7 linked regions of the Homo sapiens genome follow. The protein of the gene in region 2 binds, or shares a complex with, the protein of the main gene of each other region. Each region holds a gene or a part of one and is shown on either strand. Other genes may lie near its edges.

What was found.
Region 1: SNW1 (region 2) and SNRPB share a complex: the UniProt entries of both Homo sapiens proteins name them as parts of the minor spliceosome.
Region 3: SNW1 (region 2) and CRNKL1 share a complex: the UniProt entries of both Homo sapiens proteins name them as parts of the minor spliceosome.
Region 4: SNW1 (region 2) and RBM48 share a complex: the UniProt entries of both Homo sapiens proteins name them as parts of the minor spliceosome.
Region 5: SNW1 (region 2) and SF3B2 share a complex: the UniProt entries of both Homo sapiens proteins name them as parts of the minor spliceosome.
Region 6: SNW1 (region 2) and PPIL2 share a complex: the UniProt entries of both Homo sapiens proteins name them as parts of the minor spliceosome.
Region 7: SNW1 (region 2) and GPKOW share a complex: the UniProt entries of both Homo sapiens proteins name them as parts of the minor spliceosome.

The regions. Positions count from the first base shown.
Region 1 is NC_000020.11:2,463,698-2,467,789, reverse strand, and holds part of SNRPB (small nuclear ribonucleoprotein-associated proteins B and B'), read left to right. Parts: intron 1-31; coding exon 32-183; intron 184-1,970; coding exon 1,971-2,082; intron 2,083-3,890; coding exon 3,891-4,043; intron 4,044-4,092. UniProt on the Homo sapiens protein: Plays a role in pre-mRNA splicing as a core component of the spliceosomal U1, U2, U4 and U5 small nuclear ribonucleoproteins (snRNPs), the building blocks of the spliceosome.
Region 2 is NC_000014.9:77,719,785-77,723,581, reverse strand, and holds part of SNW1 (SNW domain-containing protein 1), read left to right. Parts: intron 1-304; coding exon 305-401; intron 402-2,753; coding exon 2,754-2,871; intron 2,872-3,797. UniProt on the Homo sapiens protein: Involved in pre-mRNA splicing as component of the spliceosome. As a component of the minor spliceosome, involved in the splicing of U12-type introns in pre-mRNAs.
Region 3 is NC_000020.11:20,035,467-20,039,734, reverse strand, and holds part of CRNKL1 (crooked neck-like protein 1), read left to right. Parts: coding exon 1-126; intron 127-1,284; coding exon 1,285-1,386; intron 1,387-2,163; coding exon 2,164-2,412; intron 2,413-3,372; coding exon 3,373-3,540; 3' UTR 3,541-4,268. UniProt on the Homo sapiens protein: Involved in pre-mRNA splicing process. As a component of the minor spliceosome, involved in the splicing of U12-type introns in pre-mRNAs.
Region 4 is NC_000007.14:92,535,249-92,539,516, reverse strand, and holds part of RBM48 (RNA-binding protein 48), read right to left. Parts: exon of another isoform or gene 3,090-4,268; intron 3,084-3,089; coding exon of another isoform or gene 2,973-3,083; exon of another isoform or gene 2,667-2,972; coding exon 2,580-2,666; 3' UTR 1-2,579. UniProt on the Homo sapiens protein: As a component of the minor spliceosome, involved in the splicing of U12-type introns in pre-mRNAs.
Region 5 is NC_000011.10:66,061,811-66,066,078, reverse strand, and holds part of SF3B2 (splicing factor 3B subunit 2), read right to left. Parts: intron 4,189-4,268; coding exon 4,081-4,188; intron 3,071-4,080; coding exon 2,963-3,070; intron 2,680-2,962; coding exon 2,537-2,679; intron 2,452-2,536; coding exon 2,350-2,451; intron 1-2,349. UniProt on the Homo sapiens protein: Component of the 17S U2 SnRNP complex of the spliceosome, a large ribonucleoprotein complex that removes introns from transcribed pre-mRNAs.
Region 6 is NC_000022.11:21,686,051-21,690,318, forward strand, and holds part of PPIL2 (RING-type E3 ubiquitin-protein ligase PPIL2), read left to right. Parts: intron 1-432; coding exon 433-508; intron 509-841; coding exon 842-948; intron 949-1,592; coding exon 1,593-1,682; intron 1,683-2,022; coding exon 2,023-2,056; intron 2,057-2,681; coding exon 2,682-2,799; intron 2,800-4,268. UniProt on the Homo sapiens protein: Has a ubiquitin-protein ligase activity acting as an E3 ubiquitin protein ligase or as an ubiquitin-ubiquitin ligase promoting elongation of ubiquitin chains on substrates.
Region 7 is NC_000023.11:49,113,534-49,117,801, reverse strand, and holds part of GPKOW (G-patch domain and KOW motifs-containing protein), read left to right. Parts: coding exon 1-205; intron 206-639; coding exon 640-772; intron 773-1,478; coding exon 1,479-1,581; intron 1,582-1,787; coding exon 1,788-1,911; intron 1,912-2,006; coding exon 2,007-2,076; intron 2,077-3,863; coding exon 3,864-3,949; intron 3,950-4,046; coding exon 4,047-4,181; 3' UTR 4,182-4,268. UniProt on the Homo sapiens protein: RNA-binding protein involved in pre-mRNA splicing. As a component of the minor spliceosome, involved in the splicing of U12-type introns in pre-mRNAs.

The sequences.
Region 1 (4,092 bases), on a different chromosome or scaffold from region 2:
GAGTCTCATCCCTGTCCATTTCTCCTTGCAGACGGTGGGCAAGAGCAGCAAGATGCTGCAGCATATTGATTACAGGATGAGGTGCATCCTGCAGGACGGCCGGATCTTCATTGGCACCTTCAAGGCTTTTGACAAGCACATGAATTTGATCCTCTGTGACTGTGATGAGTTCAGAAAGATCAAGTGAGGAGTGGACTGTGGGGGGCGGAGACTGGAGGATGGGAATGGATTGAGTGGGTGGGCCAAGCAATAGAGGTGGTGATGTAGCTAGTTGGTTCTTCTCTGTTTATTCTCCAGTTTTAGAGGGCAGACTTAAATGGGGACATTGAACGCTAAGAAATCTTTTTGAGTCCAGCAAACCTTGCTCTCTAGTCTAGCAAAGTACAAGTTGTGAAGGGCTGCTAGGCTTTTTGTTTCTCTCACTTTGCGTGCCCCTGGGTACTGGGGTAAAGGGCTCTCATGTTCTCCCCACAGGTGTGTGAGGGGGGAGAGCTTGAGTTTCTGGCCTCATTGCCTATTTGTAAAGCTGTAGCCTAAAGGGCTCTCCCAATGCAGCCTGGTCTGAAACTGCTTTAAGAAGCCTCTGACCCTCTTCAGGGTAAGTGCTCAGCTCCCCATGTGGGTTTGGGGCCAGTGATTTTTGTTGGCATTTATACAAACAATTGGAGATATTGTCTACTTTGCTACAATTCCGTAAGTTATTGGCTAACTCCCTTGCCTTGAGTCTCACAGATCTTAAGCTTTTGGCCCATTAAAAGATATGATTTAGCTTCCCATCATGTTTTACATTCAAGGCTACTTGAGGCACAAAAAGATGATGTGACTTCCGTGGCCAGCAGCTCTTTTGTCATATGCAGTGTCCATATTATTCTGTCACTCACTTTGAATTCCCTTTGATTCTCCTTGGGGCTGATTTCTTCTGTGACCCAAGGTCAAGAAGTATAGTTTAAAAATGTGGTAGGGATGCCTTGGTGCCAGGTACGTATTAGAGAGGGGCCAACAGATGAGCGTGGAGCTACTCCAAAGTTCCCTCCTGATTATAAAAAATGTTTATTGGAAAATATTTTTGAAAATACAAAGAAGTCTATGAATAGAAACTAAAATACCCCGAAGGGTTTTTTTCTAATTATGAAAGGACAATACATGGTTATTATTTTAAAAAATAAGAAAATGTGAGCCAAAAAAGGGAAAAACTGTCCATCCACAGACAACCAGTTAATATACTGTAAAATATCAAAACAAAATCTTTTGAGTTCTTTTTTTAAATCAGGCTATTTTTTCCCCTTTATTTTTAGGATCTAGCTTTAGCTTTTTTCCCCACTTTCCTATCCTGTTGCAGTTATTTTTCCTACTTCACATTTATATTTTGTTCATCTTTTTCTGGTTGTTGCTTTTTGGGGGTTTCTGTTTTTATGCTTTTGAGGAACAGATATGAAATTTCAATTTCTGTGTATGTGAAATTTCTCTTAACCTTTTCCTTCTATGGCTTCTCCTATTTCTGATGTAAGATGAGGGGCAGAATTATAGGCCTGTGAGGTTGAATTGATATTAGAAGGACACTGCACGTAAGTGAGGTGGGTGGGAGTCATTTGATTGGAATTGTTTAGGCAGCCTCCTGATGTTGGCAAGACCTTAAGCTGAAGGGAGGGAATAGGGTCCTAAGAAAGAAGACTTGGCTGAGGGAAGGGCCTTCACGGTTGCTGTGGAATAGCATTTGGGCCCGGGCTGGGCTTTGTTGACCTTGTCCTATCTCTTGGTCAGTGTGTCCTCTTGGCATGGTAGGAAACAGGTAGATAGCCACCTAAGAGGTTATGTGTTCAGCCTGTAGAGACTATCCAGGAGGGCTATCTTGGGAAAGTTTGTGTACTGTTTGTTAGGAGATGCAGTATAAGCAAATCTTGGAGGCCACTAGGCAGGTGAACTTTACCCACCTCTAACACTTTTTTTGTTCCTTCTAAACCTCTCTTTAGGCCAAAGAACTCCAAACAAGCAGAAAGGGAAGAGAAGCGAGTCCTCGGTCTGGTGCTGCTGCGAGGGGAGAATCTGGTCTCAATGACAGTAGAGGGACCTCCTCCCAAAGATGTAAGTCAGAGCAGGAAGCCTTGTGGAGGAGGGGAGGCCCTACTGTGAGCCAGGCTCTGTGTTAGATTCTGTTTCATTGCAGTTCTCACAGGCATCCTCTGGATTTTGCCCCCTTTTTCAGATAATAAATGAAATCTTAAAGAGGTTACCCTGCAAGAGGCCGGGCGCGGTGGCTCACATCTGTAATCCCAGCTCTCAGGGAGGCAAGAGGCGGGAGGATAGCTTGAGCCCAGGAGTTCGAGACCTGCCTGGGCAATATAGCGAGACCCCATTCTCCAGAAAAAGGAAGAAAAAAAAAAAGACAAAAAAAAAAAAAAGAGGTTACCCTGCAAGAAAGAAGTGGAAAAGGGGAACTAGAATTTGGGTATCTCAGACTTTAAAGCTCTACCTGTTTCTCAGTTGATGTACATAGTGAGTCAGTGGAGGAAGCACCTGAAGCCATCTGGGTCAGTTCTTAATGTGACGACAAAGCCTAGGTAGACCTTAAAAAGTTGTAACTCCGAAACAATAGGAAATGTGTGTATTTTGTTTTGTACAGTTACAGTTCATAGTTACTGAGAATCTACCTTGCGCCAACCACTTCAGTATTTTATTTGATCCTTTAGGTCTCTTTAGAGATAAATTCTCATCTTATAAATAGAATAAACCAGGGCTTAGTAACTTGCCCAAGGTGCCACAGCCACTAAGTGGTGAAACTGACATTTGATCTCAGACAGTCTTGATTCTGTAAACACCAAGCTACACATAGAAATAGAGCAGGCTTTAGAGACCTAGTCAAATTTGTTTTCCCTTTCCCTTTTTCATTTGAAGGGTTTTTTTTTTTTTTTTTTTTAGATTTTTAGATGGAGTCTCGCTCTGTCGCCAGGCTGGAGTGCAGTGGCACGATCTTGGCTTATTGCAACCTCTGCCTCCCGGGTTCAAGTGATTCTCCTGCCTCAGCCTCCCGAGTAGCGGGGATTACAGATGTGAGCCACCACGCCCTGCCAAGACGTTATTTTAATCAAAAGAGAATAATCCTTTTAACTTTTTAAAAATCCACATATATTATCTGGATTTTTTTGTACTTAACACATAGTGGGCATATATTATGTTGTTCTGTGTTTTCACTTAATGTTAACATTTTTCTAGTTGCTCAACACTTTTAAAGTCAAGTTAATGACTGAGATTTTCTCAAATGAGTACAGAGTAGTTTATCCTAATCATTTTCTTTTTTGGAGATTTTTACGTTTTTGCCTTTTCCAGTTAAAAATGTCTGCAAGGGATGTTAGCATATCTTGGTTCAAAGTCCATGTACATATTCAAATCTCTTAGTACCTACTTCCAGTAGAATTGGCTGGTCTAACATAACCCATCATAAACCTTTGTGATCACAACCAGTTGTACCATAACCATGTCATTTGCAGATAAGGCAACTCAGCCCGGGATTGTGGGATTATTTGTCCATTGTCACCTAGCGGATTAGAATCAGCTGGGAATGGATCTCATGTCCCTTTAATGCCTTGCCTGCTGAACCCTGAGTGGAACCCTGGCCCTTTGCTCTTGGTTTAACTTTCACAGGAGTGCATATAGGTGGTTGAGTTGTGGCATGTTTCTCTAGACTTACTCTTAAGTTCTACCCTGCTTCAGGGATAACTCATAGTCTTGGATGGAGGAAGAATGGTGTTGGCACACATGGAGAGGTAGTATTTATAAGCTATTTCGATAGTATTTATAAGCTATTTCGAGGGGCTCTCTTGGCAATGATATTCCAAAGTATACTTCTGATCTTCAGATCACTGGGCATCAGAGCATATTTGTTTATTTTTCAGACTGGTATTGCTCGAGTTCCACTTGCTGGAGCTGCCGGGGGCCCAGGGATCGGCAGGGCTGCTGGCAGAGGAATCCCAGCTGGGGTTCCCATGCCCCAGGCTCCTGCAGGACTTGCTGGGCCAGTCCGTGGGGTTGGCGGGCCATCCCAACAGGTGAGGAGTTGGGGAAAGGGTACCACCTCCTGGTGGCTAAAATAAAGGA
Region 2 (3,797 bases):
GCCTGGAGTTTGAGACCAGCCTCGACAACATAAGTGGGACCCCATCTTTACAAAAAATTTAAAAATTAGCCAGGCATGGTGGCACACATCTGTGGTCCCAGGTACTCGGGAGGATGAGGCAGGAGGATCACTTGAATCCAGGAGGTAGTGGCTGCAGTGAACCATGTTCATGCTACTACACTCCAGCCTGGGTGACAGAGTGAGATGCTGTCTCTTTTTAAAAAATTATATATATACACACGTGTACACGTATGCACACATATAATACATATTACAGTGAAGTACTTTTCAACTGTTCACACAGAGGATGGGGAGGCACGTGAGAGGGATGAAATCCGGCATGACAGGCGAAAAGAGAGACAGCATGACCGGAATCTTTCCAGGGCAGCTCCTGATAAGAGGTAGGTGTTATTTAAGATGTGTACCAATCATGGTGGCCGGGCGCAGTGGTTCACCCCTGTAATCCCAGCACTTTGGGAGGCCAATGCGGGCGGATCACGAGGTCAGGAGATCGAGACCATCCTGGCTAACACGATGAAACCCTGTGTCTACTAAAAGTACAAAAAATTAGCCGGGCATGGTCGTGGCAGGCGCCTGTAGTCCCAGCTACTTGGCAGGCTGAGGCAGGAGAATGGCGTGAACCCGGGAGGTGGAGCTTGCAGTGAGCCGAGATCACGCCACTGCATTCCAGCCTGGGCGACAGAGCGAGACTCCATCTCACAAAAAAAAAAAAAAAAAAAAAAGATATGTACCAATCATGAAGAGTGGCCTTTTTGTACCTTTTAGAGCAGAGTTTTAGTCCACTAAGATCAGTTTTGCTTCTCTCCCTTTCTTCTTTAGTTTGATAACTTAATAAATTAGCACTTAATTTTCTTGTACTTAACTACTTTGTCTTAGCTCTAGTTGACTGTCTTTGGAATTAATCTTCCATCACTTAAGTCAGAATTGAGAATGATGGGAATATAGAAAACGGAATCGAGATCAGATTTTTGAAAAGGATGTAGTAGTAAATTTGGACTGTTATAGTCCGTTCTTTTTCTACCTCAAATGGTGAGATAAATGGATTATGTGCCTCTTTAGACAGGAAATAAGCTTTCATGCTTTTATTGAGATCATTTTATATGCATAGTACTGCATCTAGTACAATTGAGGAGAAGAGCAGTTTTGAAAGAAGTAGAAAATCAGCTCATTTTTAGGAGTAGTTTAACTTACAGTTCAGAAAGACAGAGCTATCCATAAAATAATTTGAGAAAATTTGCAAAGCACTCTTAGTAAGTATAAACGTATAGAACAAACTAAATATATATATGAGGGCATAGAGTAAAGTAGGAATTGGGGAAGTTTATGGCTCACCAAAGGCTGAGGACTAAAAGTTCTGAAAAGTAGAGGGAACGCTGCAATACTAAGGTGGAATTCTGAGTGAGGGTTAAATGCAAATATAGAATATTTTCTTCCCAAATGAACAGTTTTCTGTGCTCTGATCATCCCATGAGCCTAATACATTTTTCAAGTCATATTTTAAACACAAAAAAGAGGCCGGGCACAGTGGCTGACACCTGTAATCCCAGCACTTTGGCAGGCCAAAGCACGCGAATCACTTGAGGTCAGGAGTTCAAGACCAGCCTGGCCAACATGGTGAAACCCCATCTCTACTAAAAATGCAAAAATTAGCTGGGTGTGGTGGCACATGCCGGTAGTCCCAGCTACTCGAGAGGCCGAAGTGGGAGAATCACTTGAACCCTGGAGGCGGAGGTTTCAGGGAGCCAAGATCGTGCCACTGCATTCCAGCCTGGGCGACAGAGTGAGACTCCGTGTCATAAAAAATAAAAAATAAAAAAATAAAAATAAATAAGCATGAAAAAGATTCCTGCTGGTATTAATTGGCATATTTCATCTCCCTGGATAAATGATGTCATGGAGAAGCAAAGACTCTTACTCTTGAGAGTTGAGGGTAAAGTACATGTAGAAGGAGGAGCAAAGTGTGAAAGTGTTTAATTAATGACAGTCTTGGTTAGTAATTCCTAAGTTGTAAAAGTTACAATGGCTCTGTGGATAAATTGGGCCCTCAAAACGAGTAAAGTGGCTATCAGAATTGACAACATAGAAAAGCTGTGAAATTGTAACTGGATGAAAATCAAACAGCCTATAGAAATCATTTTGTGACCTGAGTTTTTAGTAAAACAAGTAATGACAGTTACCATGGTTTCATTGGGATGTAGGTTGCATATATAATGCAACAGCCAGGAAACCAAATTAATCTGAATGTCAAAAATCATACTAATTCAGTCATTGACATGTTTTCCTCAAAATTCTAGTGGGATAAAATTACTAAATGTGGTTAGATAAAAGAGCTGTTTCTAGCTTATTTAAAATGTTTCGTGTGCTACATCTAAATTGTATCCACTTCCCCAACCCCCAAACCATCATATAATGATAGTAAATATAGACCATAGCAATTTTATATCTCAGCATGGTTGTAAGGTGATTGCTTATATTAAAGAATTCCATGTCAACGAATCTGTTAGATGTTCTTTTGAGCTAACAGGACGTCCTAATTGTAAAACTCTCCCTCTAATCTGAAATGCTTTATAAGGGCTGCCAGCTTGATTATGTATCATCAAGGAATATATGTTCACAAGATGTGAATGTGACATATTCACATCCTTTGTTTCTGAGATTGGTTGTATTTCTATTGAACATATTCAGCTTGTCTATAAAGAGTTTTCAGTTAGTGATGTCGTATTTCAAAATAGGTCGAAACTTCAGAGAAATGAAAATCGGGATATCAGTGAAGTTATTGCTCTCGGTGTTCCTAATCCTCGGACTTCCAATGAAGTTCAGTATGACCAAAGGCTCTTCAACCAATCCAAGGTACAAGTTTAGGAACAGCATATTGTGTGTGTTGATGTGAATACCTATCCTCAGGGAAACGAAAATTAACATACTTTACATTTGGATGTAAATGCCAGCATGATGACAAAAAAATTGGAAGTTGTATGTTGAAACTTGAGACAAGATGAAACAGTTCTGATTTTAACTTCTTATAGTGGGCTGAGATTTGAGACACTAGGAGAAGAAAGAAATTAGGTGATTAAAAACTTGGTGTTGTGGTATGTCAACCTTTTGTTTCTAAAATAGAACCAGGGAGGCCAGGCATGGTGGCTTTTGCCTGTAATCCCAACACATTTGGAGGCCGAAGCGGGCAGATCACCTGAGGTCAGGAGTTCACAACCAGCCTGGCCAACATGGTGAAACCCCATCTCTACTAAAAATACGAAAACTAGCCAGGTGTGGTGGTGCACGCCTGTAATCCCCACTACTTGGGAGGCTGAGGCACGAGAATTGCTTGGTGAGCCAAGATTGTGCCACTGCACTCTAGCCTGGGTGACTGAGACTCTATCTCAAAAAAATAAAAGAGTCAGTGTCCTACAAAAGTGCCTCTTGGGTTTTTTTGTTGTTGATTTTTGGATTTTTCTTTTAATGCTATAGAAATATATCAATTTGGGATTCTTTTAAAAATGAAGCTGTAAAACGGGATTAAAGTACTAGGCTGGCTGTCAGGAAATCTGATTTCTAGTACCAATTGCCATTAGCTAACTAGGACACTTTAAGCCTGGGAAAACACACGCGGGCGCATGCGCACACACAAGAATACAGAAGTGTAAGTTCTACTGGAAAGTAGAGTGGGAAACTTAATTATGACTTGGAGGTTTTAAGTAAGCTCTTCTAAGTGATAATTTATTAGATGCATTTTATATTCTTGGCATTGTTCTAAGTCTTGTTATTATCTCAATTCT
Region 3 (4,268 bases), on a different chromosome or scaffold from region 2:
TTTGGACCTGAAAATTGTACCTCATGGATTAAATTCGCTGAATTAGAGACAATCCTTGGTGATATTGACAGAGCACGGGCAATCTATGAATTAGCCATCAGTCAGCCACGTTTAGACATGCCAGAGGTGAGCATCTCAAGTCAAATATAATTTTGTTTGAGATACGTGTTTAGTCTTACTTTAGATGACCATCTAAATGTGGGTGTATTTTAGAGTATAACGATGATCTAACTAACTTAGTCTCTTCTACTCAGATTAGGCTTGTACGTGGAAAGGTGGCTGTGGGGGACAGGGGAAGTAGCCCTCTCATTAGATACCAGAGCAGTAGACATCCAGGATGATGCCCAGGATGAACTGGGATATCATGGGGGTGGGTGACGCCCCTTCTGCAGCAGGAAAGCCTAAAGGGGCTGGGGAAGAGGCCAGGCAAGGAAGAAGCCAGCAGGCTGGCCCACCCGGAGAACGAGGGGGATGGAGGTAGGAACTGCACATCCCTGTATTCTCTAAACCAGGATGTCCTTGCAACTTCTGTTGTCACTGTCCTGAAAGTCCTCGCCTGCCTTCAGTAGTTAAGCTTGACCCACAAGGTAGCACCAAACCACAGCTAGGAAAGATTTGAATCTCACATGAGTCGTAGAACTCACCCAGCCGTTTTGTTAATCTCATGCACTAACATGACCCTGCATTTAATGGTTTGGCCCCCTGATTGCATTAATTAAGGCAGGGCTTTGGGTATCACTGAGTTCATCAGTTGTCCTCGGCTCCTCCACCAGACTGCCAGCTTTCAGGTGTCCATGCCACGGTTTATTCATCCTTATTCCCTGCCAGGCTGCACCGAGCCAGTGCGCACCTGTTCAGTGAATGCTTGTTGCACTGAACTCTCATAATAACAAGGAATGTACAGTAGAGGTAAGAACATGCATACTGGCTAACCTGGGCCTGTTTTCTCTCTGGACGCTCAATTGCGTGTGGCTAGAATATGGAGTACCTGGGAGATGCTTGGCAAGTTTCTCAGCTCTTGATAAGTCAAGCATTTGAAAAACTTCCAAAGAGAATCTCTAAGACTGAATCCAAGGCCCTTTTTCTGTAATCTGGAATTCTAGCCAAGTTTTGGCCAGCTTATAGATACCAATGTTATTTATCTTATCCACATGTGTTCTTTAGTTGTTCAGTAAAAATCCTATGTTCCTAGATGTAGGTTAGAGTGATACTTCAGCTGTGCTTTGGATGGGGGCATGCTGCTTTGTAAATGTCAAGACTGACCCATTTACTTTTCTTCCTTAGGTGCTTTGGAAATCATATATTGATTTTGAAATTGAGCAGGAAGAAACAGAAAGAACACGAAACCTTTACCGGCGGTTGCTTCAACGGACGCAGCATGTCAAGGTATCCTTGCTTTGTAGATGATCTTTCATTTTGCTTGAATCAGCAGTCCAGAAGAAAATGATATATTTCTGTATTTTAAGTGTTTGGGTTTTTGTTTTTTTTTTTTTTTTAATGACTTCCTTGCTTTTCAAGAGAAACGTGAGTCTCAGAGGACTTTGGAATGTTTGGAATGTTAAGTTTATACCAGGTCATTGTTTATGCTGCATGTGAGTAGCTTGGGTATCACAAGATTGAAAAAAAGTTAAACTATTTTTTTTTTTTTTGAGACGGAGTCTTGCTGTGTCTCTAGGCTGGAGTGCAGTGGCGTTATCTCGGCTCACTGCAACCTCCGCCTCCCAGGTTCAAGCAATTCTCCTGCCTCAGCCTCCAGAGTAGCTGGGACTAGAGACGCGCACCATAATGCCCAGGCTAATTTTTCTATTTTTAATAGAGACAGGGTTTCACCTGTTGGCCAGGATGGTCTCGATCTCTTGACCTCGTGATCTGCCCACCTCAGCCTCCCGAAGTGCTGGGATTACAGGCGTGAGCCACTGCACCCAGCCAAGTTAAACTCTTTTCAAGAGTTTAAGACTATGTCAGACATTTAATTGTAGAATGTAGAATCAAATATTTTCAGTGTTTATATTGAAGCATATATTCATTGTTTTCATCTGTGAAACATTAGTGATGCACACATTACTTTCCGATGTCATTAACTGGGAATTCGCTTTATTATTACTACATTATTATCTTCTGAGTGATATGGTTAATTTGGTTCAATAATAACTTTTTTTAAAGGTATGGATCAGCTTTGCTCAGTTTGAGTTGTCTTCAGGAAAAGAAGGAAGTTTGACTAAATGCAGACAAATTTATGAAGAAGCTAACAAAACCATGCGAAACTGTGAAGAAAAGGAAGAGAGACTTATGCTGCTGGAATCTTGGCGAAGTTTTGAAGAAGAATTTGGAACAGCTTCAGATAAGGAGAGAGTAGACAAACTCATGCCAGAGAAAGTCAAGAAGAGAAGAAAGGTCCAGACTGATGATGGGGTAAGAACTCTGCCCTGGGACTGTTCATCTCACGTCACATGAGTAGAAACACTTCTGACGTCGAAATGTGGACTTTTAAGTGGCATATGTACAATCTTAGAATGGAAGCAGACCACCTGGAGTAGGAGATGGTTGCAATCTGGCTGTTATGGAAACACGGGGTAGAACATATGGTCCAGTCAGAGGTGGAGAACGGGAAGGGGTTGGCAAAGGTGTTTTGGTGATGGTTGAGTCTGGGAACTTCATGAAGTGTGATATTTTTAGAGCATTTAATAGGAAGTAAGTGTGGAGGAAGATGGAACTGAACTTTCAGATAGGAGCCTATCCAGAGAAGGCTTGTAGGCGGTAAGAAGGAGTTTGGTGGGAGTCAGTGAAGGCTGTTTTGCATAAAATGACGTGACCAGATTGCTAGCCTCTCATCCTGGCAGACTCAAGGGGCTTAGATTGGAGAAAGAAGACCCATCAGGAAGCAGTTTTTATAAGCTGAGCAAGACATGGAAGCTGGAACTAGAACAGGGCCACAGGGCCTGTTAGAACAATATTTGGGAAGTGAAATCAGTGACTGATAGGAGGTGAGGATGGGAAGGTAGGGAGTTGGAATAATAATGCACAGATGTATGGCTTTTGCTACTGGGTGAATATTATGTAAAGATCGTTAAACGTTTTCTTAAGTGTAAGACTGCACAATGTAGTTGGAGACACTGAACATCTTGGTTGGCTATAGAGGAGCTGTGCTTAGATTTTTAGAATGTTTTTCTACCAGTTTAGTTCTCACTGAGCTACAGTTGCTGCTTACTCACTCCCAGTCTTTCAGACCCAGCCCTTGTTCTTTCTGTAGTAGACTTTGATGTTATTTTGTAAAATGGAGGTAATCATCCGGATTTCCAGTAAAAATTCTTCACTCTGATATGTGAGTATATCACCCACGTTTGCTTATCTTTTCATTTTTTATTTCTGTAGTCTGATGCAGGCTGGGAAGAATACTTTGATTACATCTTTCCAGAAGATGCTGCCAACCAACCTAACCTCAAACTCCTGGCCATGGCCAAACTGTGGAAGAAACAGCAGCAGGAAAAGGAGGATGCTGAGCACCATCCAGATGAGGACGTCGATGAGAGTGAATCCTGATCTTTTTTTCATAGACAAATGTTTTGTTATTTTTATAAATTAATTGTTTGGAACTCTTGTGACTCCTGGAAGTTCTTATATATTTCACCAGTAAGAAATTGATTGGTATCTTTGATGGCTACTTTTTAAGTTATTTTTTAAATGCTCTTGGGTTAGCTAGGGGTAGGGATTGCAAGTAAAGGACTTTTTTAACTGCTGGATTTGTTTTTCCAACTGAGTCCAAACTTTTCTAATGTCTGTCCACATCATGCATTAGGAAATGTAATTAAGGTAACATTCTACAGTTACTTTTCATGTCATACCCATAAAGATAGTTTATGCATTCATCTGAAATGTGTAACTTTTTCATGTCTTCAGAGTCACAGACTTGAGTTCATTTCCCAGCTCTGCCACTCATGATTATATAACTTAATTTTCATTTTCCTCATTCACAAAATGGGCCAATAGTTTGACAGCTCATTTTGAAGATTACATTATAAAAGGAATATACCTGGTGGGTGCATAGTAAGTGCTCAGTAAATTGTTTGTTCTAAGCCACTTTTAAAAATGGTTTCATTCCTTGTAGAATTGAATGCGAGTGGATTAATAATTTACCTTACTTTCTTACTAGTGTCCAGTTATATTGTTTTTTAGAACAACACTTGGAAAATAATTTGCAGTGATTATATTTCTGAACAAGGTTCAGAAAACATTGTTTACTAAGAATTTAGTCTAATAATTTCAGTTAG
Region 4 (4,268 bases), on a different chromosome or scaffold from region 2:
TTGGCCAGGCTGGCCTTGAACTCCTGACCTCAGGTGATCCTCCCACCTTGGCCTCCCAAAGTGCTGGGATTATAGGCATGAGCCACTGTGCCCAAAATAATAACCTATATGGAAATTTTGTAAATTAGCTTGCATGTTATTAAGCTATCCTTATCCACCTCAACTCATCTCTTTAATTTATTTGTCTCCCTGTAGTTTATTCCCTCTACCCCGCATTTTAACTTTCTGGAAACGTGTGGTAAAAAGCAATGTGTAAAAGGCAGGCTTCCAATCTGAAAAGAGATGAGCGAAAACAGTATATAGCATAATGGACTAGATCAGAGTAACTGCTTAGGATGGAACAGCCAACCGTTCTTCAGCTGCTTCCAGAGTTCATCTGTAGCCCAGTTATCTAGAGCCTTGCTATTCAAAGATGGTCTGTGCACCAGCAGCACTGGCAGCACCTAGGGACTTGGGAAAAATGCAGAATCTCAGGCCCCACCCAAACCAACTTAATTTGAATCTTTTTGTTTTGTTTTGCTGCTTGACACCACAAAGGTTTCTTTCTGTCTCTCCTCATGATGAATTATGTTGGTGGGGATGAGGAGTGCTGGCTTCCGCATGGTCACAGGACTATCAGGAACCCATTCAGAAACACACGACCCATTTAGCAGCTCCTCTCCTTAACTGTCAGGTAACGTTTGTCATGCAACAGATCTCTAGAACTCTTTTCATCTTCCAAAACTGAAATTCTATGCCCATTAAACCGTAACTCCTCATTTTCCCTCCCCACAGCCCCTGGCCACCACCACCACCAGAATCTGCATTTTAACAAGATCCTGAGGTGGAGATCATAGCAACTTATAGTCTGAGAAGCCTGAACCAGACAGCAATTTGCTCCTTCCAATTCTATGCTTAGGTCTCTAATATATCCTTTACCTGAGATTTCAGCAAAAACTGTATCTAATTACCTCACATGGAAGTAGGGCCTACCCTCCTTATCTGCAGCTTGCTGTTAGTACCATCTACCACTTGGAGCCATCCTAGTTAATTTGGATCAGTGTGAGGAGAGAGGCCATTTCTCTTCCTGTCTCCCATCTCTGAAGAGGAGGAGGGAGTAAAAGCTGAAAAACAACAGGAATGGAGCCAGTGGCAAAACCAACCGACGCCACTGACCAGGCCTGAGGTTAAAGATTAACCCCCCAACTCTAACCATGTGTTGCCTATAGATCACTTGCTCCGTCTATCACAACCCTTTCACGCAGACCCTCTTACAGTTGTAAGCCCTTAAAAGGACCAGGAACTTTTTCTTCAGGGAGCACGGTTCTTGAGACACAAGTCTGCCGACGCTCCTGGCCGAATAAAGCCTCTTCTTTCTATAACCTGGTGTCTGCGGGGTTTTGTCTGCAGCTCGTCCTGCTACAAGTACATCATAGCTGAAATTGAACCTTATTAACTGGTATGTTCAAATTCAATCCACTAGGCAAGAGGCCATTAAAGATAGGGAGAAATGAAAACAACACACCACGGTATGGACCTTCTCAAGTTATTTTTATCAGTAAAGAAAATGGCCAGGCACAGTGGGTCACACCCATAATCCTAGTACTTTGGGAGGCCGAGGTGGGTGAATCACTTGAGCCCAGGAGTTCAATACCTGCCTGGGCAACACAGTGAGACCCTGTCTCTACTAAAAATAAAAAAAGAAAAAGAAAATAGAGACAGTCTAGATGTACTGAAATTTCCAATTATGTAATCCACTGACAGAAAAAAGTGTGGATATGCCAGAAGTAGTAACAGAAGTCTAGAATTTATAAATACTGATGTATTTTTGGATTGCCACAGGTCAAGCAAATTCTTAAAAGTTATTTAAAGCATATAAGGTTCTAATTTCAGCTTTGTTCTAATAGCTAATCTACTTTTTACTTCATAGAATTGTCTTGATTTTGAAACCCTGGCATTCGGAAACATCCTGACTTCTAGTGTTTCAATGGTTCATTCAATACTTGTATTATAATTGGAAACAGACGCTGGCTGCCTATCTTTATTTCTATTGTAAAGTTTCCATATTTGCTTCAATTAATTTACATATAATTACTGTACATGAGAGATAATGTTATGACAAGAATAGTTTCTGCAACATTAAGTATGGGTCAAAAAAAGAAGAAATGGGCCAGGCGCGGTGGCTCATCCCTTTGGGAGGCTGAGGCAGGTGTATCACAAGGTCAGGAGTTCGAGACCAGCCTGACCAATATGGTGAAAACCCATCTCTACTAAAAAAAACACAAAACTTAGCCAGGCATGGTGGTGCACGCCTGTAATCCCAGATACTCAGGAGGCTGAGGCAGGAGAATCGCTTGAACCCGGGAGGTGGAGGTTGCAGTGAGCCGAGATCACGCCACTGCATTCCAGCCTGGGCAACAGAGCAAGACTCCATCTCCCAAAAAACAAAGAAATGACTTTAGACAAATGGCTTGAATGAAATTACAAAGAGGAGTGCATTAAAAAATACCAGCAGTAAAATCTCTTGAAGAATTAAAATGACAGGCTAAAAATAAATAATAAATGTTCTTTTTAGAAAATACTAAGTTGCTGCTGGCACTCTATATTCTTCTTCTTTGTTTTAATGGATGACTTGTATGTACATCTTCTGGCTTGTCCTCTGGAGGCTTTGGCACAGATGAAATTACCTAATTAAAAAAAAAAAAGAACCATTAAAACTTAGTTTCTATAGCACAGGAGTAAATAAGCTATTAGAAGAGGTAAGACTACATCCAATAGTTCAATCCTTGATGTCACTTTCGAGGCAGAGTTCGCCTAAGTTCAAGGTACAGCCTATGACCTAGGCACAGAGTGGAGTCTTCCATTTGAATACTGATGACAGTAAAATTTCTAAAGCTATTTAAAAAGAAAAAAAATTTGGAGGAAGAAAAGTGAACATATGCTCTACTTTAACATTCCTTTATAGATCTAAAGACACTTGTTATATTACGGATTCAGATAGATATCCTGGTTTTGCATTCTTGAAACACTGATAACGTTTGATAGATTTGGGGGGATGAAAACCTTTGGAGAAATGAGCAGGAAGCAGTATAATCCTCAATTTCCTGGAGAAAAAGGAAAAGCAAACACACCATCAGAAAAAGAGTGTACAAAGAGTATACAATAAGTCAAAGCAAAGTAAGAGTCTTCATTTGAAATGGAAAATTATTAGAAACTATAGTAAACTGTATTTAATATCTTTTTTTTGTTGTTCTATTTCTGGACCTAGAATTTGGACTTCACACGTTTATCTTGAAAATGTAATCAGCTCTGGTTGAGACAGGTATGTATCTATGTCTATGCCTCAGTTCAGCTGTAACTGAAGGAAGGAAGTAAGGGTGGCAGCACAAACTGAAAACCTTTTTTTTTGAGACAGGGTCTCACACTGTCACCCAGGCTGGAGTGCAGTGGCATGATCTTGGCTCACTGCAACCTCCGCCTCCCAGACTCAAGTACCCTTCCACCTAAGCTTCCCAAGTAGCTACAAGAGTTCACCACCACGCCTGGCTAATTTTTGTATATTTATGGTAAAGATGGGGTTTCATCACATTGGTCAGGCTGGTCTCAGACTCCTGGGCTCAAGCAATCTGCTCACCTCAGCCTCCCAAAGTGCTGAAGTTATTGGTGTGAGGCACTGGGCCCAGCCTAAACTGAAAAGCTAAAGAAGGCTTCAAAACTGTGCCCACGGATTTTAATTATTATTAAATAATACCTTTAATCAGATATTTTTAGGTAAAAAATGTACATATATGAAATTAAACTACCTTAGCCTCCCTTAATCACATTGTAAAATATGAGTAAAACTATGTGAAAAGCAGTTTCTGCATCTTGGAGTAAGTATAAGAGAATGTCATAACCCTCAGTTTATGATTTGTAACAGTAGTCCCTACCCCACAAAAAGGTGTCTTTCAAAAGCTAACTCAGATGTTAACTTCATTTGTGCTTAGGAAATGGAAAATGATTATGTAAATGACATTAAAAAAAAAAACAGACTACCTAGGCAGCACAATCTGATCCCGATCATTTAAGAAGTCTACATTTGAAATGCATACCTGGAGGCCTAATTTTTAGAAATCTCACCACCTTCTATTGCTCTTTATCACAAAAGCAAATTAAGCATTTTGAATTTGATATAAACTGTAATAACTCTAAATTTGAGAGAAATAATTTACAATACTTTTGCTTCTCAACTTTGGCTCATATTAGAACTACCTGGGGAGCTTTTAACAAAAATGGCAGGCCTGGGCTCC
Region 5 (4,268 bases), on a different chromosome or scaffold from region 2:
ACATGGTAAAACCCTGTCTCTACTAAAAATACAAAAAAATTAGCTGGGTGGGGTGGCGCACGCCTATAGTCCCAGCTACTTGGGAGGCTGCGGCACAAGAATTGCTGGAACCTGGGTGGCAGAGGTTGCAGTAAGCCGAGATCACGCCACTGCACTCCAGCCTAGGCAACAGGGCAAGACTCCGTCATAAAATAAAATAAAATAACATAAAAATAAAATATTGTTATAACTGCATTCCACATGTTCAAAAAGTTAAGAGAGAAAGAATAGATTTAAAAGACCCGAAATCAAACTTCTAGAAAGGAGAATTATATTGTATGGGATTACTGTTAGATCAGAAATTACAGAAGAAAATAATAGTAAACTTGAACATATAGCAATAGAAATTTTCTAAAGTGAAATACAAAGAGAGAAGAATTTCTTTAAAAATGAAGAGCATCAGTGAGCTCTTCATTTATTTTTTCATTTATTATTTCATTAATAGAGGAATAATTTGAGTTCCCAAAGGAAAGAGAAGGGAACAGAGAAAATATCTGCAGAAATCATGACAAAATTTTCCCCAAATTAATAAAAACTAAAAACCCAGATCTAAGATGCTTAAAAAACCCCAAGCAAAGAAACATTCAGAAACTACACCAAGGCACATTGTAGTCAAATTGTTAGAACTAGTGATAAAATCTTAAAAACAGCCAAATAAAAATGACACATTATGTACACAGGAACAAAGGTAAGAATGACAGCAGTTTTCTCACTAGAAACAATGCAAGAAAGAAGACACTGGAGCAACATCTTAAAAGTACTGAAAGAAGGCTGATGCGGTCACTCACACATGTAATCCCAACAAGCTGGGAGGCCAAGGCAGGCGGATCACTTGAAGCCAGGAGCTCGAGACCAGCCTGGCCAACATGGCAAAACCCCATCCCTACTAAAAATATAAAAATTAGCTGGGTGTGATGGTATGCACATGTAATCTCAGCTACTCGGGAGGCTGAAACAGGAGAATCGCTTGAACCCAGGAGGTGGAGGTTATAGTGAGCCAAGATCACACCACTACACTCCAGCCTGGGCGACATAGCAAGATTCCATCTCAAAGAAGAAAAAAAAAAGTGTTGAAAGAAAAAAGATTGTCAACCTAGAATCCTAAACCTGGCAAAGATCTTTCAAAAATGAAGGCCAAATAAAGAATTTTTAAGACTACTCAAGCAGAACAAATTCAAAACCAGCAGACCCACAATACAAGAAATGTTTTTTTAATATTTTGTAGAAATGGGGTCTCACTATGTTGCCCAGGCTGGTCTCAAATTCCTGGAATCTAGCAATCCTACCACCTCAGCCTTCTCCCAAAGTACTGAGAGTACTGAGATTACAGGCTTAAGCCACCACGCCCCCTAACTTAAGAAATGTTAAAGGAAGCCCTTCAGGCAGAGGAAAAATGATATCAGATAGAAACCTGGATATACACAAAGAAATGAAAGAAACAAAAATGGTAACTACATGGCTTCATGCATGATTCTTATTTAAACCTCCCTAAAAGATAACTGACCATTTAAACAAAAATAATAACTATATAGTATAGGATTTATAACATATGTAAAAGTGAATATATGACAATATAGTGCAAAAATTGGGAGGAGAGAAATGAAGTATACTATAATGGCTCTTAATACTATCTGGAAGCAGTGTAACATCAAGAGAAGGTAGATCCTGATAAAGACATGATCTATAAACCCCAGAGCAACAACTAAAATAACAAAGCAAAAACTTAACAGCTAATTAACCAACACTGGAGATAAAATGAAATCATAAAAATTGTTCAAGTAATCCAAAAGAAGGTAGAAAAACAGGAAAAAGGGAACAAAGAGCAGAATGGATAAAGAGAGGGTCATTTCATGATAAAGGGGTCAATTCATGAAGACCTAACAACACTACACATTCAACTACCTAAAAATGGAGCTTCAAAATACTAGCCCATCCCTGTCTCAGTGCCTTTGCACTTGCTTGCATTTACTGTTACTTCTGACCCAGATGATCCTGTGGCTGGCGCTTTTTCATTCGGGTCTTAGTTCAAGCACCACCTCCCCAGTGAGGCCTTCCCAAAGGCCTCCCTGCCACCCCATCCCATTACCCAGTTTCCTCTGCTTCAACATCCTTATCTACATCTGAAAGTATCTTGTTCTCTGATTACCAGTTTACCTCAACTGCTGACTCCTCACTGCCTACAGTAGTGCCTGGCAGAGAGTTGGTTCAATAATTGTTTAAAAAAGGATGAGGGAGAAAGGAACAACAGTCAGCCAGCCAGCCAAAGGGAAGTGAAGGTCCTCCCCTCTCAGCCCTGTCTGGTACCCTTACCCGTCCATCGCCTCCTCAATCTTCTTCTTCCTCAGCTCAATGAGTTCAGGGGTCTCCATTCCAGCAGGCACTGATGAAAAGCCTCCAGGAGTGATAAGGCCACTGTAAAGAGAGGAACAAGCTCTGGAGTAAAGAGAAGGACCCCAAAGATAGCCCACTTCCAAGAGGCATTCTCTGCTTCCCCCACCTGTCTGCAGGGGTAATAAAGCCTGTCTCATCTGGTTTGTCTTCATCACTTTCTTCCTCTTCCTCTTCTTCTGAGGATTCTTCATCAGATGGTTCCAGTTCCCCCCAAGGGGTCCGATCAATCTCTTCTTCCTCAGTCTTGGTCTGAAAGAGATCACTTTATCATTCAACAAATGTTTTCTAAGTACCTATTATGTGCCAGGCTGTTTTAAGCTGAAGGGGTGTAAGAGTCAAAACACAATAATCCCTACCTACCTAGAGCTCAAATTCTAGTGAGGAGCTTACATTAACATCTCAGGAAAATGTATGCCCTTTTCCAGGCTCTGCTGTGTCAGAACACACAACTCCCTGATAATGAAGCTATAAACCAACAATCTAACCTTCATGACATTAAGTAAAACCAAGATCGCTAGTACATGGCCCATACCTGAAATTCAGCAGCATTGGTTCCAAACACGTCCCCATAGAGCGGTTTCCCAGTCTCATCCACTGGAGGTTTGCCCCAGCCACCAGCATGGTACCCAAAGGAACAGCTCTGCAAGACAGTGAGCACAATCAGTTCACTCCTTAGCTGCAAAAGAAATTCTGAAGCCCTAGAGAAAAGGCACACTCAAAAGTACAGAGCTGATACTTGGGAACTCCGGAAATTATGACTGCAGAATTAAATCAAATGTTATGAAGCATTAGAAACCAAAATTAATAAACAACTAAAATCTGGAGGCAACAGGATAAGGAGACAGGAGGCAGAAAGTATGCTAATAACTTCTGTCATGGCAGAGTCTTTACTGTCTGAAACCAAAATACGTACATTGAAAACATGACTTCAATTTCTTATTGAGTTTTCCTAACTTTGGAAAGCTAGCTTGTTCAGAATCTATTTATCTTAAGGGGCAGAAATTTCTATCTAAAATTTAACAATACTACTGTTTTACTTTAATGACTCATCAATTTTTTTAATGCTTATTTTAAAATAAGAAATTTGAAGACATTCTTGAGATAAAATTATTTCTGAGAGACTGAAGTGAAGCTAAAAAAAAATTATTTCTTTTTTCTTTTTTTTTTTTTTTAAAGTAGAGGTGCGGTTTCACTATGTTGCCCAGGCTAGTCTTAAACCCCTGGCCCCAAGGGATCCTCCCACCTCAGCCTCCCAAAGTGCTGGGATTACAGGTGTTGAGACACCACATCTGGCTGAGATAAAATTATTTCTCTCTGGTCATTCTTAATATTCAGAGACATATCTGGAAACACATTCACCAAACAGTGAATTTGGCTATTTCTGAGTGGTAAAATTGTGACTTGCTTTCATCTTTGTACTTGTCAATTCTGACTGAATATTTTATGATGAGCATGTCAGTTTCTTTAAAAAACAAAAACCATTATTTGTTTTTCTACACATACACATGGTATATGACAAATATTATGTCAATAAAATATTTTTTAAGTAAATAAAGAGACACATGGTGGAGTTAGAGAAGGAAAACAAACAAATTACCTTCCAGTTCAAAAGCAGAAATGGCCAAGAATGAACGAAAGGACAATGCTCACCTCAGGGATGGGCGAGTTCAGCCCAGGGATTTTCAGGTTGGGATACGATGGGGGTGGTCCATATCGCTGCATGGCAATCAGCCATGGGGGAGGGACCTTGTGGGCATTCTGCAGGAAAAAGAGAACAGGATACCATCTGCCAAACCCTATCCCTGTCTCTGCCTTCCACTCCAATCCCCACCAGCCTC
Region 6 (4,268 bases), on a different chromosome or scaffold from region 2:
ACTCAGGAGGCTGAGGTCGGAGGGTCACTTGAGCCCAGGAGTTGGAGGCTGCAGTGCACCAGGATCACACACCACTGCACTCCAGCCTGGGTACAGAGCAAGACCTTGTCTCATAAAAAAATTAAAATAAAAATAAATGAGAAGTCAGCCATACACTCCTAACCCTGAGGTGGCCAGTCCTGTGTGGTATTTTATCTCCAGGGTTTCACCTGATATCATAAGAGTCGGGATCCAGTGGAGGCCAGGGGACCCTGGCTTGGCCTAGCCTTGGCTTCTTCCTCCTGCTGGTTGGGGAGGCCCTCCTGGAGGAGAGGCACCAAGCAGGGCCTGGGGGGCAGGGGTGGCGTGTGGTTGGCTTCTAGGCAAGCGACACGTCCCCACCCAACTGCCTCCCATGGCACTGCTGAGGTGCCACCCTGGTTTCCTTGGCAGGCCCACTATTCCACAGGGAAGGTCAGCGCTTCCTTCACCTCCACCGCGATGGTCCCGGAGACCACACATGAAGCAGGTAGCCACCTTGGCCTCTGTAGCCACCTGCCATGTGACCCAAAAGTGGCAGGGGGTGGGTGTGCTCCCCGACTCCCACTTTATTGGTCTGTCAGGGGCTCCCACTGTCACCTGAGCCCCTAGTCCTCCCCCTCTTAGCTGCTGAACCCCTGCCAGCCCCATGAGGCTGGGGTGAGCCTGTGCGTGGCCTAAGCAGACCCTCGGCCTCCAGCTCCCCTGCTCTCCCCAGAGCTGGAGCCTAGTCCCCGCCTGTGTGTCTGAGGTCGGTGCTGCCTGGCATGGTGGGGCTGCCCCAGGGTGAGGGCAGGGGCTGAGCTGGGACCTTGGCTTGTAGCTGCCATCGACGAGGATGTGCTGCGCTACCAGTTTGTGAAGAAGAAGGGCTACGTGCGGCTGCACACCAACAAGGGCGACCTCAACCTGGAGCTGCACTGCGACCTGGTGGGTGTGGAGGCCAGCCACTCCCCATGCCCCAAGGTCATCTCTGGGTCATCTGACAGCCATGTCTTAAATATAGGGCTGCCACTGGTATGTGCTTGTTGTAGGAAATTCAGCCTGTCACTAGGCGGGACCCGCAGCAGTGCCCTGTGTCCTTCCTAGGGGGCCGCGTTGGCAGCATGGCCTGCGCACAGGTGCCAGTGTCTCAGAGAAGGGGCCAAGCCGCACCTGCTGCTCTGCCCACACTTCTCCCATGCGCTGTACTCTGGGCCGTGCGGCTGCACGGGTCCTGTTGCTTAATGTTGTGGGTCCATCCGTGCCCAGTGTGGCTGGGCAGCTGACTCTGCTACATGTTAAAGACCAGCCTGGCCAACATGGGGAAACCCGTCTCTACTAAAACTACAAAAATTAGCCAGGCATGGTGGCGCATGCCTGTAGTCCTGGCTACTCGGGAGGCTGAGGCAGGAGAATGTCTTGAACCTAGGAGGCGGAGGTTGCAGTGAGCCAAGATCGCGCCACAGCACTCCAGCCTGGGCAACAGCAAGACTCCACCTCAAAAAAAAAAAAAAAAAAAAAGCCTCCTGTGGCTGTGGTGAGCTGCCTTTGGCAGCTCTCTGCTTCATACAAGTATTGGGGCTATGTTGCAGACACCAAAAACCTGCGAAAACTTCATCAGGCTTTGCAAGAAGCATTATTACGATGGCACCATCTTCCACAGATCCATCCGGAACTTTGTGGTGAGTGACGAGAGTCACTGGCTGCACAGATGAGCTTGGTGGGACATCGGGGGCTGGGTGGGCTTGTCCCTGCCCCATCCCAGGGCCCTGGCCCATCCCACGGTGGCCAGGATGAGTCCAGTTGGTGATCCTCTGTTGGGGAACCCATAGACTGACCCTTGAGGCCCCAGCCCATCCAGAACTGGGTTCACAAAGGGAGGTGGCTGGGAGGGCCCCTCATTATCACCAAGAGCCCAGCCCCTGTGTGGAGCCATCTGGCAGGAGGGGTGTCCTTCAGTCAGGCAGGCGGTGGGCCTCGGGTCTCAGAGTGTGACTTGCTCACTGGCTTTTGTTTTCACAGATCCAAGGGGGCGACCCCACAGGCACAGGCACGGGTAGGTACTGGTGCTGGGCCCCTCTCTGGGCACTTTGGCTGCTCCGTGGGGCATGAGGGGGTAGCTGGGCAGGGGTTGTGCACAGCTCAGACATGGAATCTGCTAGACCAGGGTGGAACGACTGGCAGCCATCAGTGCTGTGCCCCCTCAGGCCTGGCCCTCAGTTTTCTCATTTCCAGGTGGCTGTGAGGCCTGCATGGTAGAGGAGGCAAGAGTGTGTGGTCTCTTCCCTGGGCCCCTGGGGTCTGCCTCAGACTGAGGCCAGCCCTCCCTCCTGCAGCCTCTCCAAGCCCCTCAGCCTGGCAGCTGCTTGGGTCCAGATCCCCCAACCTCTGTATTCCCATAGCTTGAGTGATGATGATGGTGGCCTTGACTCTTTAATCCCTGTCCCGGGGCAGGCCCCAGGCGGGGCTGGGGTGAGTGGGCAGCAGCCTGCCTGTTTGGAGGCGTGGGGGCTCCAAGGGACCCAGGAGTTGGTGGCGTGGGGCTGGGAGCCTCCCTATCAAGTGCCCCTGCCCCAGGCTGGGCTCAGCAAGGCCCTGATGCCCCTCGGGACTCTGAGGTTTCTAGTTCTGCCTCGGCTGGGGCCCAGGCTTTCCTGCTCCCATGGGCCTTTCTCTTCCAGGTGGGGAGTCATACTGGGGGAAGCCCTTCAAAGACGAGTTCCGGCCCAACCTCTCGCACACGGGCCGCGGCATCCTCAGCATGGCCAACTCCGGGCCCAACAGCAACAGGTCTCAATTGTGAGTCAGCTGGGCTTGCTGGGGTGGCCTGGGAGGTGAGCCGGCACTCTCTGCGGGTTCTTCCTCTTGGCCCTCTCTGAAGGGTGTGCTGGTTCTGAATCATACCCAGACGGTGTACGGCACACCTAGGCCAAGCATGTGCACCTGCGTTCAAAAGGGGGTCCCCAGAGTGAGTCAGCAGGGAGAGCTGCCCGCACCGGGTGTGTCCTCGAGAGACCAGAAGTCGGGAATTACTGGAGGTCCAGAAGGGCTTCTTGACAGGGACCAGGCATTCGTGTGGGTGCCTGTGGCCAGGCAGTGCTGGGGGAGGTCAGCGTGTGGGAGGGGTTGTGCAGGGCACAGGCTGCACAGGGAGAGGCGCCTGGAGAGACACAGGAGGTCTGGCCCTGGTGCATGTGGGGAGCAGTGTGCAGTCTGGTGGCAGGAGGCAGGGGATGGGGGGCCAGCAGGGCCATGCACACAGGGGCCGGATGCCTGTATTGTGGAAGAACAGAGGTGCCCTTTCCATCCCCAGACAGTGGCCTGATGTTATGTTTCAGTCTTTCAATCGTTTTCTTCACATGGGTCCTGTGACTTCCGGGATAAAGCAACCTCTTAAGGATTTTTTATAGTTTATGATACTTTTGTAAATGGACTTTTTTTTTCCCAACTTTTGGGGATCATTGCTCATGTAGAGAAAAACTACCGTTCATTTTATATCTAGCCACTTTAACAAATTATCTTATAATTCAAAAGTTTTTAAGATTTTTTTGGGTTTTCTAGATAGTCACGCTTATCACCAAAAGCTGGTCTGCTCTCTGCTTCCCTGGTGTGCACATCAGTCACGTCACCGTCACGTCACCGTGGGCCTGATGGGGGAGGAGGATGTGGGCATCTTGCTGTGCTCCACAGAAATCGCTGTTTTGCCTTCTCAGAACATTTGTTGTTGGGCTGTTTTTAGGAGGGTGGCTGACTTTTTAGAGGTTTCTTTGTTAGCATCTACTATGATGATTCTGTCCTTTTTCTGGTCCTCCCGGGATTTGTGGATGTGGCCACTACAAGGCCAGAGTGGATGGGTGTCTCCGTGGCATTCTGGGGTGAACCCTGGCCTGTCGTGGCTTCGCCGTGGCCTTCTGCCAGCTCACTGTCACACGTGGTCTCGGTTGTGTGGACTGGCTCCAGCAGGTTTTGCTGTGACAGGTGTGGCCCCTGCATGTTACGAGCAGGGCTGGCTGTGGCTTTGTGGCCTGGAATGGTTAAAATCACAGGGATGGCCAGGCGTGGTGGCTCACACCTGTAATCCCAGCACTTTGGGAGGCTGAGGTAGGTGGATTGCCTGAGCCCAGGAATTCGAGAGCAGCCTGGGCAACATGGCAAAACCCGATCTCTACAAAAAATAAAAAAAATTAGCGGGGCATGGTGGCGTGCGCCTGTAGTCCCAGCTGCTTGGGAGGGTGAGGTGGGGGGATAATCTGAGCCTGGGAAGTCAA
Region 7 (4,268 bases), on a different chromosome or scaffold from region 2:
GCCCCGTGTCAACTCACTGAGGCCCAAGGGGTTAGGGCTGGGTGCCAACCTGACCGAGGCCCAGGCCTTGACCCCCACTGGCCCCTCCCGCATGCCAAGACCAGATGAGGAGCAAGAGAAAGATAAGGAAGATCAGCCTCAAGGGCTGGTGCCTGGAGGAGCTGTGGTGGTTCTTTCTGGCCCTCACCGAGGCCTCTATGGGAAGGTAAGGAACCAAGATATCCCGGGAGCCCAAAACAGGCAGCAGGGAAGGTTGATCCGAGGGTCAGATGGAGGAATAATTGGATTTGAGGTAGAAAGGCTGGGACTCCTAGTCTTTTAGGTCTGCTTGGCCCACTGCCTCACTCAGTAACCCAGGACCACTTGCTGGCCTTTGTGAGCCTCAGTTCCCAGCTAAAAGGAAGAGAATGCCATATGCCACAAGTCCCTGAAGATTAAATGCTTAAAGGATCCAAGGAAGCCCCACAGTCAGCTGAGGGAGACACAGGAACCAGACCTGGTCCCACTTCTCAGGGGTCAGAGTCTGGTTGGGGAGACAGAGGAAGCAGGCCTCTTAGAGGTAAGGGGTTGACATCTTGGTCCTAGGAATGTGGGTGGAGTCCACAACCCCTACCTGACTTCTTCCCCTCAACACTTTAGGTGGAAGGCCTTGATCCTGACAATGTTCGGGCCATGGTTCGTCTGGCTGTGGGGAGCCGGGTGGTGACTGTTAGTGAGTACTACCTGCGGCCTGTCTCCCAGCAGGAGTTTGACAAGAACACCTTGGATCTCAGTGAGTGAGCCTCTTGTAGAGCTAGGGGAGTTGGCAACGCATTCCTAGGGGTGGCAGGGCCTGGCTAATGGGGTGGTTTTAGATCTGCAGCAGGGAGGGGCAGCAGTGTGCCTGGCAGATATGACTTCCAATCAGAGGTCAGGAGGTGAGAATGGACATAAGTGACTTACTCCATTTGATTGGAGAAAGGTCGATGTCATACCCCTGGGTCTGTAGCCTGTCTGAGTGAGAAGAAACAGGTGCAGAAACCAATTCCTACCTTCGAGATCTTTGTCCATTTGGGGTGATGAACCTCTCTTTTACTAGGGAGTGAGAACTGCTAGGATTAGGGTGTGACCAAGAAGGAAGGAATTCTAGGCAGACAGAACAGCACAGGCGAAGGCGTTTCGGTAGGACGGGGCAGTTTGGCAAATGGGTACAGACAGAGCTCTCTGGGAATCTCTAGTCCACACTAGGTGAGCATTGTTGTTGTGGGCTAGGTTGGCTGCGGGAGGGTTCCTGAAGGAAGCTGAAATGGTTGAGAGGTGGGGGAGAGGCATTCTACTAGCAAATGCATGAGGGGTGAGAGGGGCACTTTGGCAGGTGGGAGGTGGCTCTAGGCTGAGACATGGCCTTGGAAGGAAAGGGCAGTGAGACACTGAGGCTCTGTCCTGGTTCTCCTCATAACCTCTTGAACAGGCCAGATGAGCAAAACTTCCTTCCCCAGGGCAACAGAACGGAACTGCCTCATCACGGAAGACCCTCTGGAATCAAGAACTCTACATCCAGCAGGACAACTCAGAGAGGAAGCGGAAACACCTTCCAGACCGGTGGGACTCTGAGCATGCGGGAGGGGTCAAGAAGGCAGGGCTGTGGGTAGGCTCGAGCAGCCAGGGAAGGCTTCCAAGGCAAGGCGGGCTCATAGAAGGAACGGGGAACTGCATTGTGGGTGGGTTTCATAGCATAGGCAAAGGGAGGGCAACTGGAAAGTGCATCTGATGAAGAGCTAAGCCTGGTGCTGGCACCTTCTCCACAGACAGGATGGGCCTGCAGCCAAGAGTGAGAAAGCAGCCCCCAGAAGTCAGCACTGGTTGCACAGGGACCTGCGTGTGCGGTTTGTGGACAACATGTACAAAGGAGGCCAATATTACAACACCAAGGTGGGAACCCTGCAGCCTGAGTCCCCCTCCCTCTCCTAGGGACTGGGCCCCCCTACCTCTCTAAAATCTCACATCCCCCTGACCTGTATCCCCAGATGATAATTGAAGATGTCCTAAGCCCAGATACCTGTGTATGTCGGACAGATGAAGGCCGAGTCCTGGAAGGTGAGTTTGAGCGATGGCAGCTGGAGGTTGATCAAGAAGAGTGTTTTAGGCCCAGAGCCTGGCCCAGGCAAAGCTGGGAGGTTTGGCAGAGTTCAGGTATTTTGCAAGGCCTAGCATCCTCTTACAGAACATTAGACACTTCCATGATGGTGGTTGGTTATCTTGAGCCCCACTCTCCCAGTCTGTCAAGTTTTCTTTTTTTTCTTTTTTTTTTTTTTTGAGACAGAGTCTCACTCTGTCACCCAGGCTGGAGTGCAGTGGCGTGATCTCAGCTCACTGCAACCTCCACTTCCCAGGTTCAAGCGATTTTCCTGCCTCAGCCTCCCGAGTAGCTGGGATTACAGGCAAGCGTCACCACACCTGGCTAATTTTTGTGTTTTTAGTAGAGACAGGGTTTCACCATGTTGACCATGCTGGTCTTGGAACTCCTGACCTTAAGTGATCCTCCCACCTCGGCCTCCCAAAGTGCTGGGATTACAAGCGTGAGCCACCGCGCTCGGCCTCCGGTCTGTCAAATTAGCATGGAATTTACTATTTCTTCCTCTTGTGATTGGTGCCTTAGTGAAGGAATGTGTATTGAGCTCTCAGTGCAGGGCAGGGGTTAAAACATGCCCACAATAAAAGGTGCCTGTTGTTATCACCACCACCCTTTATTACAGTGATTTTTGTAAACTACTCCTTAGGCTACCTCATCTGTGAAATGGATGTGGCGGGACTCCCATCTGTCAACAGGGTGTAGAGTGGCTCCAGGGAATACAGGAAAGGCCCTTCTTTTTTTTTTTTTTTTTTTTTTTTTTTTTTTTGAAACAGAGTCACTCTGTCACCCAGGCTGGAGTGCAGTGACGCAATCTTGGCTCACTGCAACCTCCGCCTCCCGGGTTCAAGCTATTCTTCTGCCTCAGCCTCCTGAGTAGCTGGAACTACAGGTGCCCGCTACCACACCCAGCTAATTTTGGTATTTTTAATAGAGACAGGTTTTCACCATATTGGCCAAGCTGGTCTTGAACCCCTTACCTCGTGATCCTCCTGCCTCAGCCTCCCAAAGTGCTGGGATTACAGGCATGAGCCACCACACCCAGCTGAAAGGCCCTTCTTTTTTTTTTTTTTCTTTTTTTTTTTTTGAGATTGGGTCTCATTTTATCACCTATGCTGGAGTGCAGTGGCACCATCATGGATCACTGCCACCTCAAATTCCTGGTTTCAAGCCATCCTCTCACCTCAGCCTCCTGAGTAGCTGGGACTGCAGGCACTGACCACCATGCCTGGCTAATTTTAAAATTTTTTGTAGGCTGGGCGCGGTGGCTCATGCCTGTAATCCCAGCACTTTGGGAGACCGAGGAGGGTGGATCACCTGAGGTCAGGAGTTTGAGACCAGCCTGACCAACATGTCAAAACCCCATCTCTACTAAAAATACAAAATTAGCCAAACGCAGTAGTGGGTGCCTGTAATCCCAGCTACTCAGGAGGCTGAGGCAGGAGAATCGTTTGAACCCAGGAGGCGGAGGTTGCAGTGAGCCAAGACCACACCATTGCACTCCAGCCTGGGCAACAAGAGCCAAACTCAGTCTCAAAAAACAAAACAAAAAAATCTGTAGAGATGAGGTCTGACCATCTTGCCCAGGTTGGTCTCGAACTCCTGGGCTCAAGCGATCCTCCCAACTTAGCCTCCCAAAGTGCTGGGACTACAGGTGTGAGCCACCACGCCTGGCCAGGAAAGGCCCTTCTGACAGGACGCTGGTTGGGCTGGTCCTTGCTGTGGGCCTCACTCCCCTCTCCCTTATCCATAGGCCTGAGGGAAGACATGCTGGAGACCCTGGTTCCCAAGGCAGAGGGTGACCGTGTGATGGTGGTGCTGGGCCCACAGACTGGAAGGGTGAGTCTCAGACCTGGCAGTAGAGGTTTGTGGGTCGTTCAGGGCCTGTCCCAGGGTCTAGGCTTGCCTTGCTGATTCCACTTCACCTCTGTTCCAGGTGGGACATTTGCTGAGCCGGGACAGAGCACGGAGCCGGGCTTTGGTGCAACTGCCAAGAGAAAATCAGGTGGTGGAGCTTCACTACGATGCCATCTGCCAGTACATGGGCCCTAGTGACACAGATGATGACTGACCCATGGGACTCCTCCCATCCCCCAGGCTGGTACCAGTTCTGTACCATATGAGAAAGTTGCCTTCAGAAGGTGGGAAGATCATTGTT